Homo sapiens: one gene and its partner. The protein of the gene in region 1 purifies or fractionates together with the protein of each later gene. This does not show direct contact. Each region holds a gene or a part of one and is shown in the gene's direction. Other genes may lie near its edges.

The links. Proteins that work in one complex are often made in the same cells at the same time.
Region 2: the proteins of LAPTM4A (region 1) and CLCC1 purify together in Homo sapiens (co-immunoprecipitation; one large-scale study listed by IntAct). This does not show direct contact.

What each region holds. Positions count from the first base shown.
Region 1 is NC_000002.12:20,045,129-20,048,628, reverse strand, and holds part of LAPTM4A (lysosomal-associated transmembrane protein 4A), read left to right. Parts: intron 1-3,500. UniProt on the Homo sapiens protein: May function in the transport of nucleosides and/or nucleoside derivatives between the cytosol and the lumen of an intracellular membrane-bound compartment.
Region 2 is NC_000001.11:108,939,485-108,942,984, reverse strand, and holds part of CLCC1 (chloride channel CLIC-like protein 1 isoform 1 precursor), read left to right. Parts: intron 1-1,486; coding exon 1,487-1,580; intron 1,581-2,842; coding exon 2,843-2,940; intron 2,941-3,202; coding exon 3,203-3,349; intron 3,350-3,500. UniProt on the Homo sapiens protein: Anion-selective channel with Ca(2+)-dependent and voltage-independent gating. Permeable to small monovalent anions with selectivity for bromide > chloride > nitrate > fluoride.

The sequences.
Region 1 (3,500 bases):
CTGTGTCATTTGGAACTTGGGGGAGCCCCTCTCCCTCGCTATCAGTGACTGTATCTGATACAGTCTCATTGCTTTCTAGCCACGGCTTCTACTGGTCTAGTGTTAAAGTATCGTAACACCATATACTAAAATATTCATTGTATGGTACAAAATAGTGCTGTGGGACATAGAGAAAGCCAGAACCAGTTATTATATGCACCGGAGGTACCAGCCCTGAAGTGTGAGCCTTTCGTATTTTAGCTAGAAAAGAAGCATACCTGGTTAAGTAACAGGAAATTTCAGAATGAGCTCATGTTTAAATTCTGGCATTCCTGAAATGGTTTTCTCTATCATTTATTGAAGAATTTGAAGCCAGTTGATTTTAAACAAGTTTCTTATGAGGTATAAACTCAAATGTTTATTGAATAATTGAAAATGGACTTAAAAGTGTGCTGTAGTAGATATACTTTGTGATTAATGGTGTGCACTACAAGACTACATTTTGAGCATTTGTAATAATTTTATCTCTTAGACTTAATATATGGCTAATTTTTCATGAGTGTCTCAACCATAAACAGTTTGAAGTTCTGTATCTGGGAGAGAAGTAAAAACAGGTTTCCTTAAGCTCTATTCCTTTCTAGCCCTCACCTCTGACTTCAAGTAAGCATAGCTTGTTTATATTTGTTAGTTTCCTTCCTTAAACTAAGGAAGTTTTGTGCCTCTGCCTTTGCATATGCTATTCCTTCTCCCTGAAATGTTGCTGTCCTCCCAAGTCACTTTCTAAAAATTTTATTAAGGAAATTTTCATACATACAAAAGTAGTGAAGTAGTACGAAAACCTCCCATTTATTCATCACCCAGCTTCAACCATTAACAACATTTTGCCAAGTCCAGATAATTTAATGGTTAGCTCACATGTTTTCGTGGTAAAACTTTCCTTTTTTTTTTTTTTTGAGACGGAGTCTCGCTCTGTCGCCCAGGCCGGACTGCGGACCGCAGTGGCGCAATCTCGGCTCACTGCAAGCTCCGCTTCCCGGGTTCACGCCATTCTCCTGCCTCAGCCTCCCGAGTAGCTGGGACTACAGGCGCCCGCCACCGCGCCCGGCTAATTTTTTGTATTTTTAGTAGAGACGGGGTTTCACCTTGTTAGCCAGGATGGTCTCGATCTCCTGACCTCATGATCCACCCGCCTCGGCCTCCCAAAGTGCTGGGATTACAGGCGTGAGCCACCGCGCCCGGCCTTTTTTTTTTTTTTTCTTTTTTGAGACAGAGTCTTGCTCTGTCACCAGGCTGGAGTGCAGTGGTGCGATCTCGGCTCACTGCAACCTCCGCCTCCCAGGTTCAAGCGATTCCTCTGCCCCAGCCTCCCAAATAGCTGGGACTACAGGCACCCGCCACCATGTCGGGCTAATTTTTTGTATTTTAGTAGAGACGGGGTTTCACCGTGTTGGCCGGGATTGTCTCGATCTCCTGACCTCATGATCTGCCTGCCTTGGCCTCCCAAAGTGCTGGGATTACAGGCGTGAGCTACCATGCCCAGCCAAGCTTTCTTTACTTCCTAGCCAGGGGGATCTGTTTTTCTCACGGTGCACCTGCAAAAGTTTCTGGATCCTTCTTGTATGTACTTATTAAATAGTACTCAGTACACATTGGTAGGATTGTCCTTTTCTCTTATTTTTCTCTCTACAGCAAGATGTTCTCCTGGAGGGAAGAGGGTGATGTCTTTATAAGGGCAGTGGCTCACGCCTGTAATCCCAGCATTTTGGGAGGCCAAGGCAGGTGGATTGCCCAGGAGTTCGAGACCAGCCTGAGCAACATGACGAAACCCCCTCTCTACCAAAAAAAAATATATATTATATTATATATATATTTATATATTATATTATATATATATTTATATAATATATATTTATATATAGATATATAATATATAAATATATATAAAACATATAAAAATATATATACACACACACATACATACATATATATATTAGCGGGGCATGGTGTGGTGGTGCATGCCTGTAGTCCCAGCTACAGGGGAGGCTGAAGTGGGAGGATCACTTGAGCCGGGGAGGCAGAGGTTGCAGTGAGCCTAGATCGCAGTAACTACTCTCCATCCTGGGTGACAGAATGAGACCCTGTCTCAAAATAAAATGTGTGTGATGGCTAACTTATTAATTAAAACATTTGAGGTGTTCATTACACATTTGTTGAATGAATGTCTCCTCCAAAAAATATTGTGAATACTCAGTTGTATCTGCATGTAACAGTAAACAACAACAAAAAACTTTTTTTTTTTAAATTATACTGTAAGTTCTAGGGTACATGTCCACAGCGTGCAGGTTTGTTGCATAGGTATACATGTGCCATGTTGGTTTGCTGCACCCATCAACTCATCATTTACATTAGTTATTTCTCCTAATGCTATCCCTCCCCCAGCCCGCCACCCGCTGACAGGCCCTGGTGTAGGTGTGTGATGTTCCCCACCCTGTGTCCAAGTGTTCTCATTGTTCAGTTCCCACCTATGAGTGAGAACATGCGGTGTTTGGTTTTCTGTCCTTGTAATAGTTTGCTGAGAATGATGGTTTCCAGCTTCATCCATGTCCCTGCAAAGGACATGAACTAATCCTTTTTTATGGCTAAAAAACGTTTTAAAGATAGTCAATTTTGATCTTTATCAGATAACAGGCTTTGCTTAGTTCTGTAGATTGACCCTCCTGTGGGTGCTTTCTCTGCATGGGAAGCCCTTATCTGGATGCCTCCTTAAACCAGACACACTGTTTTAATTATTATCTCAGTAGATACTGGCTCTGGGCAAATTACTGTGGGAAAACTGAAAAATGATTTTTTTTTTAAAGTCTCCAGAGAATCTTCTGGAATAGGTGTGGCAGTGAAAGAAGAAAACAAAGAATTCCTCTCTTCAGGCCCTGTGCTTCCATGGATCTGATACAGTTATTTTGTAACAAGTCAAATCTAACAGATTTCTTATTGTACACACTTACATAAGATGTAGAAGCTTTCAAAAACAATGCACACCACCTGATTTGACTGATTAAATTTACAGTACTGTTAACACATTGAGTGGTGAATCCGCAGCCCATGCTGCTAAAATATTGCTGCATTCTATACCTCTCCATATTGCCAAGTTTAGAAGTTAATAATTTAATCTTTTTTTTTTTTTTTTAAAGAGATGGGGTCTTGCTATGTTGCCTGTGCTGGTGTGCAATGGCATGATTATAGCACACTGCAGCCTTGAACTGGGCTCAAACAATCCTCCCACCTCAGGCACCTGACCAGCTGGGACTACAGGCACACACCACTGTCCCCAGCTTAATCATTCTTTTTAAATTACATTTTTATTAACTTTCTTTCCTGAATACAGTGAAAGGAAAAAGTGAATCAGGAATAAATATTTGTAATAGTTAGTACATAGTTGGATATTTTCAGAGAAATTTTGTATTGTAAGATTACAGTTAATTTTATGTATTTTTTGAAAAGCTAAACATGTAATTTAGAAATAT
Region 2 (3,500 bases), on another chromosome or scaffold:
AAGATTGCGCTGCTGCACTCCAGCCTGGACCACAGAGTGAGGTCTGTCTCAAAAACAAGGAAGAAAAAAAAAAGAATAAAGCTATGTGGATACATTTAAAAATTATCATGTAGGTAATTTAGAGTATGTCATTCTATGTCTTTGCTAGAAATGATACCAAAATATTATTTTTTAAAAATTAGGTTATTTTTTGAATAAGTGGTATATTCATGGCAGAGAATTTAGAAAAGGCAGATACAAGGAAATTAATTTTTAAAATAACCTATAATTTTATCACCTAGAGAAAATCTGTCAGTAGTTTAAGGTATTTCTTTCTAGATTTTTCTAGATTTTAATTATCTTTCAAAGTTGGGATCATACTGTATATAGAAATTGGAAAGGACCACTACTGTTCCCATCAACATAGCATAAATAATAATCATTGAAAGAAAATTTTAGATCTTTCTAGCAGAGTGAGTCAAGTAGCCAAGTATTTTCAATGATTTCATCTGGTTAAAGCATTGTGACATTTCCTTAACCTTTTGCTGTAAGTATTATAGTATTTAGAACTAATTATTTACAAATTAAACACAGATTCTGTGTGGAAGGAAAGTTGCTTGAGTATTGTCACCTTAATGATTGTATATTGGTCATTGTACTGGAAATTATCCAGTGCAAAATAGGATATCATCAACTATAAAAGAAAATAAGAAGTAGTCATTTAATTTGTATGGCTAGAACTAATTGTTGTTGTTGTTGCTGTTGTTTTTGAGACAGTCTCACTCTGTCCCCCAGGCTGGAGTGCAGTAGTGAAATCTCGGCTCAATGCAACCTCCACCTCCCGGGTTCAAGCGATTCTCTTGCCTCAGCCTCCTATCTGGGACTACAGGCCCGTGCTATCACGCCTGGCTGAACTAATTTTTAAAAACAATATTTTTAGTAAAGTTTCCCTTTTTCATTATAATTACTTACAGAGAAGGCAATTGTAGTTAGTACTTTATGCTTACTTGTTGCATTAAGGCTGTACTTTTCCATGAACTGGAAATAGCTACTCTTTACAAATAATATGTTTTCCTATAATCCTAGCACTTTGGGAGGCTGAGGCGGGCGGATCACTTGAGGTCAGGAGTTCAAGACCAGCCTGGCCAACATGATGAAACCCCGTCTCTACTAAAAATACAAAAATTAGCTGGGCGTGGTAGCGGGCACCTTTAATCCCAGCTACTCGGGAAGCTGAGGCAGGAGAATCGCTTGAACCCGGGAGGTGGTGGTTGCAGTGAGCCGAGATTGTGCCACCGCACACCAGCGTGGGTGACAGGGCGAGACTCCGTCTCAGGAAAAAAAGAGAAAAAATAGTAATAATAATATGTTTTTTTTTAATTAAAAATTTATAACAGTCTGGTTTGGATGAATGGTAAAGACACTCTTTGAATGAAGGTCTTTTGGATGTGTAGGCCTAACCTTCATAGGTAACGGCCTCTCCTGGTTCCCTTTTGGTGTTGGGCAGCTAGCTTTTGCACAGCATCAGGCTGAAGTCGCCAAGATGGAGCCATTAAACAATGTGTGTGCCAAAAAGATGGACTGGACTGGAAGTATCTGGGGTAAGGTGTTTGTGCACTTGTCCTTATTTTGAATAGAAATTCTGAGAATGAAAGAACATAGAACAAAGAGAATGATAAAATAACAGGAGGCTTTCCATGACTGAATCTTTAATATCAGAAGAACATGCAAGAAGCATTTTAGGTTTAAAACCAGTGACTTTTTATGCTCATCTAAAGTCACAGGGAAGGAATAGAAGTTGTATATATGTTGGCTCTGATATTATCTGTCTTCCTTCATAAGACTGTGTGAAGGATCCTATGCTCGCTTTTGTTCATCTCGTTCTTTGCACAGGGTCTGGCATATTCTCAATAGAAGTTTATTAAACAAGTGAATGAATGTATATATGAATTAATATCCATCTTAAATTTAATGGCCTTATATTGACTTGTGAAATTTTATGTTGTAGCTTTACTTTTTTTTAACTACGGGAAAAATTAGTTTTTTTATTCTTTCACATTTTATAAACATTCTCATGAATGTTCACTACCTTTGGTTGTATGTATCTAGCAATGGGGATGGTTTAATAATGTTCCAAGGCATTTTATAAATGCAAGTCCATGACTGACACGGAATTCTGCAGATGGAATCCAAAATAAATGTTTCTTAAAAAGTTGTGGGAACTAAACCAATTCAGCCTTCCTTCCTGGCTTCAGTGGACAGTGAAATGCCTCCTCTAGCTCAGGCTAGTTTCCCAACGTATATAAGCCTGATTTGGAAAAATTAGAACTAATATTCCACTTTATTTTGTAAACTCCATAAAGAACTGACTTTTTAAATTAAAAATTTACTGAGGTAATTGTGGATTCACACAGTAAGAAATACTACAGAGAGAGCCCGTGTACCCTTTCCCCATTTTCCTCCAGTGGTGACATCTTGCACAGCTTTAATAGTACAATATCAGAGCCAGGATATTGACTTTGATACAATCCACCAGTCTTATTTCGACTTCCCATTTTACCTGTACTCATTTGTGTTTGTGAAGCATTGCTTTTAAAGTGTTTACCTTTTAGACATTTTTATAAAATACAATTTTTTATCTGCATAAAACATGTATAATTTGAATGGATTTTTAAAACATGATTTTGGACATAAGATGAAAAATTTAAAAATCAGCATTACAGGGAGTCTACTTAAAACTTAAGATAATTTAAAACTCATTGGTGGGTGGTCAGGGAGGGTCAAAACCAAAGTAATGTCTTGTTTGGGAATGAAATGCAACATTAAAAGAAATGATCAGTGTTTTGTCTGTTTCTCTAAACAGAATGGTTTAGAAGTTCATGGACCTATAAGGATGACCCATGCCAAAAATACTATGAGCTCTTACTAGTCAACCCTATTTGGTTGGTCCCACCAACAAAGGTATAGCATATATTTTGTAAAAATTACTTAAAGTCAGTCAGAAATCCCTTGTATTTTAAAGAACTTTAGTGTTTGAGTCATTTTGCTAATAAGCGTTTGTCCAAGAAAAAATACTTTTGCACAGTGATTTTCACATTAAAAATGGCACAACAGCATTTTAATTTATGTAACATACTTTCAGCATCAGTACTCAATGAATTTTGATGCATTCTGTACCTTAGTCCTGTGAGGAGAAAATTAAGTTGCTTTTCTCTCGTTTTAGGCACTTGCAGTTACATTCACCACATTTGTAACGGAGCCATTGAAGCATATTGGAAAAGGAACTGGGGAATTTATTAAAGCACTCATGAAGGAAATTCCAGCGCTGCTTCATCTTCCAGTGCTGATAATTATGGCATTAGCCATCCTGGTTAGTATTAATATATTAGCACTGTCGGGCCAGGCGCGGTGGCTCACGCCTGTAATCCCAGCACTTTGGGAGGCCTAGGCGGGCGGATCACGAGGTCAGGAGATCGAGACCATCCTGGCTAACACAGTGAAACCCTGTCTCTACTAAAAAA